Linked DNA regions of Homo sapiens: region 1 is linked to region 2. Evidence: fine-mapped expression QTL. Tissue or cell type: whole blood. Region 2 holds a variant in brackets; the other region holds the start of a gene. All regions are shown on one strand. Distances are between the middles of the regions.

The links. PIP is the estimated chance that this variant, and not a neighbour inherited with it, causes the effect.
Region 1: it holds the start of SMARCA4, and the variant in region 2 is fine-mapped to the expression of SMARCA4 in whole blood (TOPMed, PIP above 0.99). The same link has a PIP of 0.9 or more in lung.

Annotation. Positions count from the first base shown.
Region 1 is chr19:10,957,550-10,965,549 of GRCh38, reverse strand. SMARCA4 (SWI/SNF related BAF chromatin remodeling complex subunit ATPase 4) reads right to left here and starts at 4,520. Exons shown (of 35, transcript NM_003072.5): 1 at 4,376-4,520. RefSeq lists an enhancer at 1,506-1,635 and silencers at 4,153-4,212, 4,263-4,322, 4,373-4,792.
Region 2 is chr19:11,021,808-11,030,053 of GRCh38, reverse strand. It overlaps SMARCA4 (SWI/SNF related BAF chromatin remodeling complex subunit ATPase 4), which reads right to left. Exons shown (of 35, transcript NM_003072.5): 19 at 8,087-8,246; 20 at 6,423-6,536; 21 at 5,616-5,723; 22 at 4,546-4,632; 23 at 3,708-3,754; 24 at 2,104-2,270. Among named protein-coding and RNA genes, the nearest start is that of LDLR, 64 kb to the left of the region's middle. RefSeq lists an enhancer at 1,410-1,910. The variant A/G (reference allele first, on the strand shown) is at 4,426.

The DNA.
Region 1 (8,000 bases), 64 kb after region 2:
CTGTTAAACAATGTGCAGCCATTAAGGACAAAATGGAGGAGCTGACTCCTTTGCTACCACTTTGAAACATACAGAACTTATGACTAGAGGAAAAAGTATATTATCTGTGTCATCCCACCAGGCTGTTGCAGGAATCCTAATAAATGATGAGCACTAACAACTGTTTAGCACTATGTGCCAGGCACCATTCTAAGCACTTCGCATTTGTCACTGGTTGTTCAGCTCTTGCAGCAATCCTACAAGCTGGGTACTAGTACTGTCCCCCTTTGCAAGTCAAGAGTGGGGTGTGAGCTACTAAGAACAGGACCCTTGTCTGCCTGTTCCCCATGGAATCCCCAGCTCCCCAGCAGTGCCTGGCACATGGCAGGCGCTCAATGCATGCTTGTTCGCCACATAAATGGGGAAGAGTGGCTGGGTCATTTCTTGCACAACTCCAGGGGGCACTATTCACATTGTGTTCTGTCTACAGGCACCATGAATGGGTCCTTCTGTGCCATGGCAGCCTTGATGACCGAGGGATGGAAAGACAAAACCAGGAGTCAAACCCAGGTGGTTGACTTGACAACCCTTGTGGAAAGAAAATAACCCTAGGCCTCAGTTTCCTTACTGATAGAAAGTTCCACCAGACTGGCTGGGCACGGTGGCTCACGCCTATAATCCCAACACTTTGGGAGGCCGAGGTGGGCAGATTACAGGAGGCCAGGAGTTCGAGACCAGGAGTTCTGGCCAACATGGTGAAACCCGGTCTCTACTAAAATACAAAAATTAGCTGGGCATGGTGGTGCACGTCCTTAGTCCCATCCACTCCAGAGGCTGAGGCATGAGAATCGCTTGAGACCAGGAGGCGGAGGTTGCAGTGAGTCAAGATCGCACCACTGCACTCCAGCCTGGGCGACAGAATGACTCTGTCTCATAAGAAAAAAAAAAAAAGAGGCCGGGCGCGGTGGCTCATACTTGTAATCCCAGTACTTTGGGAGGCCAAGGGCCAAGGTGGGTGGATCAGTTGAGGTCAGGAGTTCAAGACCAGCTTGGCCAACATGATGAAATCCCATCTCTACTAAAAATACAAAACTTAGCCAGGTGTGGTGGTGCACACCTGTGATCCCAGCTACTCAGGAGGCTGAGTCAGAAGAATCGCTTGAACCCGGGAGGCAGAGGTTGCAGTGAGACGAGATCGTGCCATTGCACTCCAGCCTGGGCAACAAGAGTAAGATTCCGTCTCAAAAAAAAAAGAAAGAAAGAAAGAAAGTTCCACCAGACATCTGCCCAAAACCCTAGTCCCTCCCATGCTCCCACCTCCCACAAACAGCCAAAACATGGAATGGTCTAAGGTTATCTCCTGGTGTTTTGAGGGTTCCCAAGGAGAAGCAAAGGTACACAAATAAATTGTAAATAAATACACATATGTTGGAATGCTCCTCACTGACAAGAAGTTTAGAGACCACTGCACTGCCCTATATCACAATTCTGATGACATCACCTCCCCTGCTCAAAAGCCTGCACGATCAACATTTACGTCTCCTAAAGGGCTGGACACAAAATGATTTTAGGTGGCCCATGCAAAACCATTTATTACTTTCCTAACTATGCATGAATTAATTTTTATTCCTTTTTTTAGACAGGGTCTCGCTTCGTCACCCAGGCTGGAGTGCAGTGGCTCAATCATGGTCCACTGCAGCCTGTACCTCCTGCCCCAGCCTCTCAAGGAGCTTGGGACTACAGGGGCATTGCACTCCAGCCCGGATGACAGAGCGAGACTCCGTCTCAAAAAAAAAAAAAAAATCAAGTGTTCACTACGCATCAGGTGCAGCAGTGTGTTAGCGGCTTCCCATGTGACCTCATTCAACCCTCACAAGAAGCCTGTGAAGTTTCGGGCATCCTCGTCCTACCTGTTTCACAAGTGGGGGGCCCTACTGCTAAGCGCCTCGCTTGAGGTTAAGCTACGATTTAGAGAGCTGGGTGTGAATTCAGGAGGTCTGATTCCAGAATGAGTACTCCTTACCACCACCCCACGCTAACCACCACCCCACACTTTGTAGGGGAGATGAGGACAACTGAGGTTCAGGAAACAATGGCTTGGAAAGTGCAAAAACTGTTCAAACAACTAACCTGTATCCCTTACAATCCACCCCCAGTCCTGCACCAAGCTTTCTTTTTCTTTTTTTTTTTTTTTTTTTTTGAGACAGTCTTACTCTGGTGCACAGGCTGGAATGCAGGGGCACAAGAATGGCTCACTGCAGCCTCCACCTCTCTGGCTCAAGCAGTCCTCCTACCTCAGCCTCCTGAGTAGTTGGGACCACCGGTGCATGCCACCACACTCGGCTAATTTTTGTATTTTTTGTAGAGATGAGGTCTCACTATGTTGCCCAGGTTAGTCTCAAACTCCCGGGTTCAAGCAATTTTCCCGCCTCAGCCTCCCCAAGTGCTGGGATTTCAGGTATGAGCCACTGCACCTGGCCCTGCACCAAGCCTTTTACACAGATGGTCACGCGATCTTCCACAGGACCCCCTCATTCAATCCACATAAGTTCGCTAAAGACCTACTATGTGTCAGGCCCAGGGTACTGTGGGGCCAGCCAGGCAGACACAACCCCAGCTCTCACGGTGCTGGGGGTGACAGCTACACCGGAAAGGACCAAGTTGATGTATGAATGTAGCTGAGGGGAACAATGGCTAGTCCGAGGTGGCCAGGGAAAGTCAAAATACAATCCTGGCGCAGTGGCTCACACATGTAGTCCTAGCACTTTGGGAGGCCGAGGTGGGTGGATCACCTTAAGTCAGGAGTTTGAGACCAGCCTGGCCAACATGGTAAAACCCCATATCTACTAAAAATACAAAAATTAGCCAGGCGTGGTGGCGGGCGCCTGTAGTCCCAGCTACTCAGGAGGCTGAGGCAGGAGAATCGCTTGAACCCAGGAGGCGGAGGTTACAGTGAGCGGAGATTGGGACTCTGAACTCCAGCCTGGGCGACAGGCAAGACTCTGCCTCAAAAACAAAATACAATCCTACACACCCTCCCTGATTTTGAGGCCCCCTCTTCCAAGCAGCCCCCGTGATCTCTGGCTACCACCGATCCCCTGCCTGTCCGCTGTGTCCCTCTCACAGTGCAGGTTCAGAGCAATAAACGATAGGCCAAGAGAGTTTGTTCCCACATTTACCACCCGCTCCCCTCCAAGACTGCAGAGGCTCCAGGATCCAACCCCCGACCATCCAACACTTAGTAGGGCCTCAAGAAGTTATCTGCTGAACAATGAGGGAGATTGGACCAGACAATTACAATAGTGCTTCCCGCTTGCGAGGAACCATTTTACAGGCTTTCACCAATTCCATTTGGGAGATTACCCCCTTTCACAAAGGAGCTTTCACAAAGGAGGAAAACTAAGAGGTTCAGAGAGGTTAAGCCACTTCCCTAAAGTGACAGTGTGCTAAGTGACTGACAGCACCAGGAATCAAGCTTGAATGCAGCCTATCAATCCAAACTGAAAACTTGCTTCAAATTCCTGCGAAGCGGCTTTTCCGCTTATTCCCTTGCTACTTTCCCCAAGGAGTCACTGACCAAAAAAAAAAAAAAAAAAAATCAAGACTGGTATCTTCAAGATCGGGACAAAACACTCGCCCAAAAGGTCCACGTTGAAAATAAAAGCCTTAATCTGAAAAACCAATTGGGAAGGAGAAAAAAGGATGCAAAAGAAAAGCAATGCTTTTACACAGCAAAGGATTTCCTCCGTGCTCCCCTACTTGCCGCCGACCCCATCCCCAACCCCAATTCGGGCAAACATTTTGAAGTCACTAACTGCAAGGCATCGGGGGAGTCCTTTACCTTTCCTTGAAAATCTGGAATGACACGTTTTTAAGACAATTTGAGGTCGGCTAGCCCAAGGGGACCGCTAATGCCCGTGTCCGGCCGACGCCGGACATATCTGGAGGTTTGGCTGAGCCCCGATCGCAGCTTCGCCAAAAACGCAACATTCGGGTCGGACCCGTTACCACGCAGCCAGAAAAGCCCCAACGCCTGCCTATTGTTGCAGCCGCTGTAATTGGGAGGGCGACTGTAGGGGTGCCGGGCGAGGGGGGCGAGCTTTGTCCGGCGACCCCGGCGAGAGCGCGCGCGGAGAGGATCGCGCGGCCTCCACGCGGCCCGGGCCCCCCACCCACCCCGCCGCTCCGCGGGGGCCGCCGCTGCCACGGCCTCGCGACACTGTGGCCTTCCCCACGCGCGCGGCTGCCGGCTGGGCTTCTTGACCCTCGGGCGCCGCCGTACCCCGGCCCCGCACAGGGCGCGCCGGCAGCCCCCTCCCCCCTCGGCGCCCCGGCTCCATTCAAACCGCCCTCCCCGGCCCCGCGCCGCGCTGCCCCCGCGGCCCGCGTTCCTTACCAGGAGCCGCCGGCGCCGTCGACTTCCCGGCGCCTCCCCCGCCCCTCCGCGCGGGGCCGGGGGCAGAATGGGCGTCTCGCTTCTCTTCACGAAACAAAGAAGCCGCCGCCGCCGCCAAACGAGGGGAAGCCTCGCGCGCGCGCCCGCCCGCCTCGGCCACCGCCCCCCCTTCACACACACGCGCGCCACCCGCGCCCCCGCTGCGCGCGCGCTCGCCGGCTCCCCTCCCCCTCAGCACCGCGGCGGCCTCTCCAGCTTCCGCCGCCTGCCCGGCCTCGTGCGCGCGCCAGCCCGCCCTTCCGCTCCCGGCGCGCGTGCGCGCCCGTCCCTGGGCGGACGGGGGTGGGCGTGGCCCGGAGGAAGCACGCGCGTCCGATGCACCGCCCCACTCGGGCCGCGATGGCCCCGCGCCTGCGCACGCTTCGCCTTCTGCACGCCTCGCGTCTTGACGCCCCGGAGCATGCGCAGAGCGGACGCCACTGCGGCGGCGGTGGCGGCGGCCGCGGTGACGATGGGGCAACTGGAGAATGGGATCCCGGTGGCCGTGGGGTCCGTGGGGAAAGGAGGTCCCTGAGGCTCGGAAATAGGAACCCTGGACCGTAGGACGGGCCGCCTGGACCAAGACCGGGCAGTGGTTTCCCGCGGGCCAAGGGCGCGCCTGGGAACCGCTTTGATCCCTGACCTGGGGCGGCGAGGCCTATTTGGGGAGGCAAGGCGGGGCCCGACCGTGGCCGCCTTCTCTGCAAAACTTCCCAAGTGCCATTAATTAGCTTAGCAAATATTTATTGATCTGCTACTGTGTCCCAGCCGCCGTGGAGCCCTCGGTCTAGTGGGGAAGGAGGACAAGAAGCAAGATTAATAAGCAAAATAGTGCAGTATGAGAGGCCGGACTTGGTGGCTCACGCCTGTAATCCAGCACTTTGGGAGGCCGAGGCGGCCGGATCACCTGAGGTCGGGAGTTAGAAACGAGCCTGACCACCATGGTGAAACCCGTCTCTATTAAAAATACAAAAATTAGCCGGGCGCGGTAGCTCATGCCTGTAATCCCAGCACTTAGGGAGGCCTAGGCTGGTGGATCATGAGGTCAGGAGATGAGACTATCCTGGCTAACACGGTGAAACCCCGTCTTTACTAAAAATACAAAAAATTAGCCGGGCGTGGTGGCACACGCCTGTAGTCACAGCTACTCGGGAGGCTGAGGCAGGAGAATCGCTTGAGCCCAGGAGGTGGAGATTGTAGTGAGCCGAGATCGTACTATTGCACTCCAGCCTGGGCAACAAGAGTGAAATTCCGTCTCAAAAAAAATAAATAGTACAGTGTGAGGTGAACACTGGGAGGATCATGGACATTTTAAATAGGGCAGCCACGGAAGTCGTCGTTGCAAAGAACACGTTTGAATGCATACAGGCTGGTGGTGAAAGAGAGAAACCTTCCTCCGAGAGTGAAGGCCCTGAGCCTCTTGGCCTCTTCTGTGTGTTTTCTTTTTTGTGTGTTTGTTTGTTTGTTTGTTTGTTTGTTTGTTTGTTTTGAGACGGAGTCTTACTCCATTGCCCAGGCTGGAGTGAGGTGGCACGATCTCAGCTCACTGCAACTTCTGCCTCCCAGATTCAAGCGATTCTCCTGCCTCAGCCTCCCGAGTAACTGGGACTACAGGCGTCCGCCACCACGCCCGGCTAATTTTTGTATTTTTAGTTGAGACAGAGTTTCACCATGTTGGCCAGGCTGGTTTTTAACTCCTGACCTCAAGTGATCCGCCCACCTCAGCCTCCCAAAGTGTTGGGATTACAGGCGTGAGCCACCTCACCTGGGTGGGTTTTTGTTTAATTGTTTGTTTTATTAGAGACAGGGTCTTGCTCTGTAACCCAGGCTGGAGTGCAATGGTGTAACCACAGCTCAGTGCAGCCTCAAACTCCTGGACTCAAGGGATCCACCTCAGCCTCCCAAATAGCTGTGACTACAGGTACATGCCACCACCACCAGCTTTTTTTTTTTTTTTTTTTTTTTGTCTGTTATGTTCTGTAGAGCTGAGGTCTGCTGTGTTACCCAAGCTGGTCTCAAACTACTGGGCTCAAGCAGTCCTCCTGGCTCAGCCTCCCAGTGCACTGGGATTACAGGCATGAGCCACCAAGCCAGGCCCCAGAAGGACCTGGGTTTAAAACACGACTCCATTTCTACTACCTGGGTGATGCATGGGTAATACCAGGCAGGTTTACCAGAGCATCTACACCTCACTTTCTTCACCTGTGAAACAAACAATAAGGCTGGGTGCGGTGGCTGACATCTGTAATCCCAGCACTTTCGGAAGCCAAGGTGGGCAGATGACCTGAGGTAAGGAGTTCGAGACCAGCCTGGCCAACATGGTGAAACCCCGTTTCTACTAAAAATACAAAAAAATTAATTAGCCAGGCATAGTGGCAGGTGCCTGTAATCACAGCTACTCGGCAGGCTGAGGCAGGAGAATTTCTTGAACCCAGGAGGTGGAGGTTACAGTGAGCCAAGATCATGTCATTGCGCTCCAGCCTGGGTGACGAGAGTAAAACTCCATCTCAAAAAAAAAAAAAAAAAAAAAAAATGCTGGGCCCAGTGGCTCACGTCTGTAATCCCAACACTTTGGGAGGCCAAGGCAGGTGGATCATGAGGTCAAGAGATTGAGACCATCCTGGCCAATGTGGTGAAACACCATCTCTACTAAAAATACAAAAATTAGCTGGCTGTGGTGGCGCGTGCCTGTAGTGCCAGCTACTCAGGAGGCTGAGGCAGAATTGCATGAACCCAGGAGGCGGAGGTTGCAGTGAGTCGAGCGTGCCACTATACTCCAGCCTGGTGACAGAGGGAGATTCCGTCTCAAAAACAAAACAAGACAAAACAAAAAAAACCCACCAGAAACAATAATGGCTCCCACTTCCACTGTTTGGTTATGAGGAATCATGACAGCAGGTAGCCCACCTGCTAGCTCTCTGATCCTCAGCTAGTGTTATTGAATAGTGCACAGTAAGTGAGCAAGTAGAAGTGGGATCTGAACTCGATTCCTCATTCATTCAAGTAGTTATTTTTTTGTTTTTTTGTTTTTGTTTTTGAGACACAGGCTTGCTGGGTCATCCAGCCTGGACTGCGGTGGCACGATCAGTACTCACTGTAGCCTCGACCTCCTGGGCTCAAGCGATCCTCCTGCCTCAGCCTCCCGAGTAGCTTGGACTACAAGGGTGGGACACCACACTCAGCTAATTTTCTTAAAATTTTTTGTAGAGACAGTCACACTATGTCGTCCAGGCTGGTTTCAAACTCCTGGGCTCAGGTGATCCTCCCACCTCAGCCTCCCAAAGTGCTGGGATTACAGGCGTGAGCCAAGGCGCCCGGCCAAATAGTATTTCTTATGCTCTCTCCAAATGCTAAGCATTGAGCTAGGAATACCCTGCAGCAATGCATGGAGGAGGCAGGGTTGCTGCCCATGGAGTGGATGGTATGACTGTTCTCTAATTGTCTTTTATGCTAATCACACTAATATGCAATAGTGTAAAGAAAAACAGGCCGGGCCAGGCGCGGTGCCTCACGCCTGTAATCCCAGCACTTGGGAGGCCGAGGCAGGCGGATCACCTGAGGTCAGGAGTTCAGGACTAGCCTGACC
Region 2 (8,246 bases):
CTCCCTGCGCTGCTGGGAGTTCGGACAGAGGTGCCCCTGAACACTGAAGTCATTTTGGTGATGAAATAAAAACTGGCAGGCCGGGCGCGGTGACTCATGCCTGTAATCCCAACACTTTGGGAGGCTGAGGTGGGTGGATCGCCTGAGGACAGGAGTTCGAGACCAGCCTGGCCAACATGGTGAAACCCCGTCTCTACTAAAAATACAAGAAAATTAGCTGGGCGTAGTGGCGGGCGCCTGTAATCCCAGATACCAGGGAGGATGAGGCAGGAGAATCGCTTGAATCCAGGCGGCGGAGGTTGCAGTGAGCTGAGATCATGCCACTGCACTCCAGCCTGGGCAACAAGAGTGAAACTCCGTCTCAAAAAAAAGAAGAAATAAAAACTGGCCATTTCCTGCCACCAGCCTACACATGCCCAGGCACGGTGCAGAAGCCCACAGTAGCCTGGCCATCCACCTGCCGTCCCACCCTCTCTCAGGCACCAGATGTGCCCCTGCTACTCCAGCTCGGAGGAGGGGCTGAGGTGAGGGGCCACCCGGCTCCCAGATGCCAGCCCACCCATGGGAGATGCAGTCTCAGGAGACTTCACTGAGCTCCTACCCTTCCTCTACTCGCAATGGATTCTCTGGCCCTGTGGCCATGACCACATCACATGCAGAGGACACATCTGTAGTTCAACTGACCAAAGTCCTTGTCCTTATGGAGTAGGCAGAAGGGCACTGGGATGGGTGGGAACCAGGCTCTCTCCTGGGGGAGTCAGGGACACGACACAGACGGGATGGCCCTCAGGAAGCCTTGGCCCTCTCGAGGACGGGAGAAGCCGCTGGAGAGACCGTAGGAGAGGAAAGGGTGGGGGGTGGCCCGGCCATGAGGACCCTGAAGGATTTTGGTTTTCAGCCTCAAAGCTGAAAGTGGGAAGCCCCCAAGGAAGAAGGCAAGCCGGGGAGACCCCTGCAACAGACTCGTGTCTGTAGAGTGGTCCTGGACAGAACCCCGGGGAGGACCTGCAGTTTGGAGGGACACACAGGGCACACTCCGGGTGGCACCTGGGCAGGTTGGCCCAGCAAACACAGGTCCAAGTGATCAACGGGACAAGGGGTATGGAGGTCTGGGGTGTCCTGCTGTGAGACAGACCTTGCACAGGAGCTTCAACAAAGGCTCTGGGAGGTCGTGTAGGGAACAACAAACTGGCTGAGCCGTGTCTGTCTCAGCAGCTCATGCTCGTGTTTCTCGTAAGCCCAGTTCTAGTAACTCCCACGAAGAACTCACTCCAGGGCTCCCTGACCCACTGGGACTGACAGACATGTCTCACGTGCCCTGTCGGCATCTCACAGCCTCTCCTCCCTGAGCTCCCGTGTGCTGGGGCAGGCAGGCGCAGAAACACAGGCGGTGACCTTTCCCATCAGGGACCGCAGGGCAGGGGGTTGGGCTGAGAGCCTCTCTACGGCAGCTGCTGCTCCTGCCTGGCAGTGCTTGCTTCCCTCCCTCCGTGCTCACCACAGAGTCTGATTCCAGGTCCAGGCCTGACCTGTGGCAAGGTGGCAGTCACTGGGCTGCTACGAATGGCCCAGGGATGGGCATGCGGCTCACAGCAGCTAAATGAGAGCCAGCCTGGGACCTGCCTTTGTTGGGGACACTGAGCAGGTGGAAAGGAAGCCAAGATGGAAGAAGGCAGAGCAAAGAGCTGGAGAAAAGTCTCTCCAATATCACCTGCATGCCTGGATCCAGCTGTGCCTGAAGGATGTTTAACCTCCTGGGGTTAGAGCTATGTAAGCCTATTGGTGCTTTCTTTCCTGTGTCCACATGGTATGGAATTCTGTCACTTCCAGCTAAAAGTGCACAGGGCACCCCTTCCCCAGTGCGCCCAGCATTGTCGTGGAAAGACTGTCAGCCTAGGAGTCAGGACACCCGGCGTCCAATCCACGGCCTGTCCCAGTGCCGAGTGCCCAAGATGCTCAGCCTGTGGCTAGGCCCACTCTGGCCACTGGACCCAGAGCGCCTGGGCCTCACCCTGCCTCACAGGAGGGAATGCCAGTGAGGAGCTTCTGTGGCAGCCACAACAACAAAACCCTGTAAGAAACGCCTCACTGGCTCATACTCACCATCAAGCCTGAGGTATTTAAAGCCGCGATACGCAAAGTAATCTTCCATGATGGTCATGAGGGAGGTCATTTGGCAGAACAGCAGCACTTTGTGGTTGGTTGCTCGGAGTTTGGGAAGAATTCTATCAAGAAGCTCAAATTTACCCGAGGCTCGGTACAGGTCCAGCCTGGAGTGTGGAGGAGGCAGGAGAGAAGGCGCAGGATGTTAAACCTGGAACCCTGCAGGCAGGTAAGGCAGGAGGTGCATCGCCCGCCTCCAGGCCAGGCGCCGGGTTCAAGGGCACAGACATGCATCCTAAGCAGACGTCACCCACCCAAAGCTTCAGCAAAGCCATTTCCCCCAACTGAAATAAGCCCGGCCACCCTCGCTGGGGAGGCGTATCACCAGGGTGGCACATGTATTTCTCGTCAAACCCAGACACTCATGAAAATGAGAGGAGCTGTGAGTCACATGGCCGGCACAACACGGGGCTGGAACAGGGATGCTCCGGGAAGCCAGACCTTGTCCCCTTGCCCGATAAAGAAGCCCCAGGAGCAAATGCCACACTGGAGACACCCATGCTCTGCTAGACCCAGAAGGAAGGGCCACCTCGGCTTCTCATGTTCTCTCCAGCCAAACCCCAAGTGTTGTAGATGTGGACACTGAGGCTGGCAGGGGGACGACGTGATATGGCTGACCACATGTCCAAGCCAGGCCTCCCAGCCTTGAAGCCAGGTGTACAGGACCCTGTTCCACAACTCAGTATAAAAAAACACATCAAAAAGAATTTGTGATGTTTTCATTAGGCGCCTCTCTTCTTGCAAATGGCTTACTACCCCAGGGGAATTGAATGGAGGCTTTAGCTGGAAGAATGCTTTTAGCAAGGTTCTTTGCAATGGTGAAAATCTAGACACAGCATCCACATCCATTAGGGGCTTAAAGGAGTCTGGGCTGCCCCTTACAAAGGGTGCTATAGAAAACACCCACATGATGTAAAGAGTGCCTCTGTACTAGTGAGCAGAGTTTAGGCTCAGAGAGGTTAAGAAAGCTGTCTAGAGTCACAGAGCTTGGAGGCGGCAGAGTGGGATCTGTAAGCCAGGTCTGCCTCAGGAATCCTGTCTCTTGGGGTTAATAGTGGTCAGCTCTCCAAGCACTAAAGATTTGTATAATGGGGCCGGGCGCGGTGGCTCACACCTGTAATTCCAGCACTTTGGGAGGCCAAGGCGGGTGGATCACTTGAGGTCAGGAGTTCAAGATCAGCCTGGTCAACATGGTGAAACCCCATCTCTACTAAAAATACAAAAAATTAGCTGGGTGGTGGCAGGTGCCGGTAATCCCAGCTACTCGGGAGGCTGAGGCAGGAGAATCATTTGAACCCAGGAGGCAGAGGTTGCAGTGAGCCGAGATTGTGTCACTGCACTCCAGCCTGGGCAACAAGAGCAAAACTCCACCTCAAAAAAAAAAAAAAAAAAAGATTTGTATTATTTGCTTTGGATTCTTCTGTATTTTCTAATTTTCTGCCTTTGAAATTGGACAACATAACAGCAGCAATAAAGCCAACAAAACGACAGAAAACCTCTGGGTGGACCACCTGCCCACCCCATCCAGTTGGGAAGCTTCTCACCCTTGGACAATGCCGCCAGTGAACCCCAAGTGCTCGGAAAAGGACTCCTGCAAGGCAAGGAGAGAGGGGTCAGTGACAGGCAGGAGCAGGCCACCGGGCCCCGCTGCGGTCCGCACACACCGCTCGTGCTCAGAGGACAAAGCCCCCACACTGTGTGCTCGGCACGGGCCCACGGCGGCTCTGAGACCAGACACAGATGCCAAAACCATCTTTCTTAGTCCACTGACATCCTTTCCCTCACACTCCTCCAACGAAGGAAAGGACATCCCATACAGCACTCTTCACACCCTGAATGCACGAGGACGTCATGGGGCCACAGCCACGCTCAGGGTGCTGAGACAGCCCCAGGGGCTCTCGGGGCAGCAGGCGGTCTCCAACGACCCTGACACTTTACACCAAGAAACACGAACATATGCATGCTTCTAAGAACCCAGATTCTCAAAGCCACCATGACCAAAAAGGGTTCTGACTCCCCCACACTTCACTGAAGACGGTGGTGACTCTTGACGCCCCGCAACGTGAGAAAAGCCAGTGAGCCAAAGAGACGCAGCAGGACCCCACTGTGGGGGGACACATCCCCAGAGAAGTCTCCAAACGCTCCTGCTCTCTGAGGGCAAGCTTTCAGGGCCCTATATTCCTATCGCACGTTGCGCCCTAACTGCTGGGATTCTTCCCGTAAGCACTGGTGAAGCGAAGACCAAATGAGAGACAGATGTAC[A/G]GGCATTACCTAATGAAAATATTCGAGTCTGTTTTTAAAGAGCTGTCGAGGAGAAGCCAGCTCTGCCTAGGAGCTCAGCAGACAGCAGGGCCTGAGCCGTCCCAGCCGCGGCGGGCTCACCTCGATGTGCTGGAACATGTAGGGGTGGTTGCAGATCTTCCGCAGCTGCATGATGGTGTTCATCAGGGTCTTGGTGCCGCCTTTGCCCTGGAAGGCAGATGAGAGGGACCCAAATGGGGTCTTGCCCTCCTGGGGTGGGGTGGGCTTGGTGGATGGGTGGGTGTTGGGAGAAGGGCCATGGGGACGCTCTAGTGGGGAAGAGTGGCTTTTGGCACAGCAATTGGGAGTGAGGAGATGGCAGGCTGGAGGCCCGGAGGCCCCCAACAAGCCCTGGGAAACAAATGACTGCCTGGCACAGCAGAGGGCAGATGGCAGGGACAGGGCCAGCAGGACGGGACGGAAACAAGACTGGCAAAGGGCTGAGGCAGAGTCCCCGATGCTTTGTGATGCCAGCTTTGTTCTGGGCACTGTTACTGTGGGGGTCCCTAGAGGGTCTCAGCTGGGCAAGAGGGCCTCAGCCGGGTGAGCCATGACTCAGGGCTCCCTGGGCTCCAGGATGAGGAAGGAGGTGGGGGCGGGGCGGGGGGTGCATGCTCTGGGCTGGGAATGGACTAGGGAACACACTGCTGCTCAGCTCAGGGGAGAAGGGGCACAGACACAACGTCTCGGGGAAGCCAGGCCGAGGTCAAGGCCTTGGGGGCAGAATCAAGGGGTCTGGTGCATTTCCTGGGAGGATAATTTCACTGCTGGTGAGGAGAGCCAGGCAGGTGGGGCCTGGGGCCTGGGATTCTCAGAGCAGCCCCTGCAGGAGACAGCCCGCTCCCTTCCTTTCACTTAATAACAGAGAAGGGGGGCATTCTAGAACACTCTAACCCTGCTGGGGTTAGTGCTGGGCCCAGGCTGCCAATTGCAGAAGGAGCCAGTGTTTCATAGGCAAAGGAGAAGCCACTGGCAGCTGAGTCAGTGTGTCCTGACACAAGCCACCAGCCATCATAACCAGGGCTGGCCAGATGCCCTGGGGATCATGACCAGATCATGACCCGATGGTCAGAGCACGCTCTGCTCTGCCTGCCACGCTGCCGGCCTTGGACACCCAGTGGGGAATGCAGTTGGGGGACTCTGGGGCCCACCTTCTTGTCCTTCTCGGAGCCATCAGTCAGCAGCACGCCCTTGGCCTGCATGTGGCGGTAGAGCACTCGCTGCAGCGCAGACATGTCGCACTTGATGACGTACTCCACCTGCAGGGGACACATAATGCTCACGAGGGCCCAAGGTGGCTTGAGGCCTGACTCCCCCCATCCGAACCCAGCTCTGACCCCCTCGGCCCTGTCATATGAGCTCTGACCAGAGCACACTGGGGTGTGGGTGAGGAGACCCTCACAGCTGGGGAGAAGAGGGGAGACCTGGGCAATGAGAGGAAGCACCAGGCAGAGATACCAGAGGGTTACTGGGCCAGAAAGGGCCCCCCAGCCATCTTCTGGGGGCCTCTCTACAGCCAGCCAGGAAACAAAGAGCCAAGAGGGACAACTGCAGCCGGGGACCCCGAGTCCATGGGTCTTGCTGTGGGAACTGGGCCCAGGGGTGTGGCTGCAGCAGGCCTTGAAAACCCAGAGCCATGATGGGGGGCCGGGGGGCAACCCCAAGCCCACGGCCCCTCCTGATGTGGCCAGGAGAGCCCGCACAGGCACCTGGCCCCCTGACAGGAAGTGGGATTTTGTGCTCTAACCTATTGTGAGCTATGTGAGCCTATGAGTGCTTTTCAATCCCTACAACAGCAGCACAGGGCTTTACAGACCCAGTGGCGTCATCGCCACCCCCAAGCTGGATTGACCAGGGCAGGCCTGGGACTGTGGGGAGAGGCCCTGAGCACGCCCAGCCCTGGAGAAAGCCCCCACGTGAGGCTGCTTCACTGGTGGCTCCCCTCAAAACTCCATCACCTTTTCGGGCAACTGGGCCTCGACTTCCTTCTTGAGTCGTCGGAGCAAGAAGGGCCGCAGCACTTTGTGGAGACGCCGGATGATGAGAATGGTTTCCTCCTCATTCAGGTCCACCTGGAAGCCCCCAAGACAGGAGAAGCAAGCGTTACCTCCAAAGGAGGGCGACAGAGGTCTCACTAGAAGGTGCGGATGTGGGGACAGGGTGGACGGGGTCCCCTGGGGTGATCTTGCCCTTGGCACGTGGCTTTTCAGCCTGCTTTATGCTTTCTGGGAGCCAGGCAGGGCACCCTCTTCCTTAGGAAACTGTGAGGATCTGGTTCCCTCCATGTAATTCCTGGGACATGGAACCGCAGTACCCAGAGCACTCTGCTCCCTGTGCCTCACCAGAAAGACCCCCGGCAGCGGGCATGCTGCTTCTCCACGAGTAACACAAACTGGAGTGTCCACAGACCCACCCCACGCCAAGCTCATGCCAGGAGCGCTGCAGGGGCCAGGCTGACCACATGGGGCTTATAGCGGGTGATTCTCAGGGAGGGCTCTGCCACCGGGAGCCCCAAGGGACTCTCATTCAGCCTGGGTGGAACCAGGTGAAAGAAACCCTGACCTCCCACGGCGCCTACTCCTCTACTAATAATTAACTTTTAAAATGTTTTAATTAAAAAAGTTAAAGGAAAATGAGACGACGCCAAAACTTTTCTTCTATTGCTTCCCTGGCAATCCTTTGGCAGAGCTTTTGCTCGGCTCAGAAAGTGACAAAACTATAGCATCAGATCCTGGCCCTTAGTGTGGGGGTCCCGGGAGTCTAAAAATTGGGGACTCCTTTATCACGAGGCTTTGGGGAATGCCTCGGTTTCGCCATCAGAAGAGTCTCTGCCTTGACCAGCAGCCGAGAGGGCAGGGAACTCACGCATGAGGCCAGGAAGGCCCCAGCTGCCCTGGACCTGTCTAAGGTGGGAAGAAGGGGGTGGGCCCAGCCGTGCTGGGCAGGGCACTTCGAGGTAACCTCTGTAGTTCTGCCCACACTTCAGCATCTGGTTACTTAAACCCCTCAGCAGGAAACACAGTCTGTCCCACAGTTTCAACCTCCAACAGCAAGGAGCTCTAGGCTCAGGGATCAGTGCTGGTGTGGGACCACTCATCAATGATGATGCTGCCATGCCACAGTCTGGCTGATGGTGCCACCCAGACATTGAGACACACTGGCCACTGAGCTTTTTGAAAACAACGTAAGACAGAACCTGACCATGTGGCCCCGCTAACTGGAATCTTCCAAGTTTCCTTCCCACTGCCCTGAGGGTGAGTTCTGAGGGCACCTAAAGGGGCCTACAGCACGCTACAGCCTCTAGCTGTGCTCTCCACACGCTTGCGGTCCCACAGCTGCCTCAGGGCCATCTTCCTCACCATCCACTCTGCACCTGGAGCATAGGGTCAGAGACGCCCCGAGCATTCCGAGATTCACCACCATGACCTCTGCCCTGCTCCCCTGGGGCCCTTGTGGCTGCCCCAGCCTTGGGTTCCAGGGCTCCCCTGCTCCATGCAGATGCAGACTCTCACCAGGCACCCAGCACAGGCCCAGCCAGCTGTAGCTGGTGCTCAACACGTTCCAACCAGCAAAGCCAGCCGCACCTGGAACCGTCAGCATGGGCACAGCTGGGCAAACCCACCTTTTCCCCGGTCATGGCAAAGGGTGCGTTAAACCACTGCTCGAAGGTGCTGCAGCTCTTGAAGATGGTGGGCAGCAGGAAGTTGAGCAGCGCCCAGAGCTCGGGAAGCTTGTTCTGCAGCGGTGTGCCCGTCAGCAGCAGGCGGCGGGGTGCCACATAG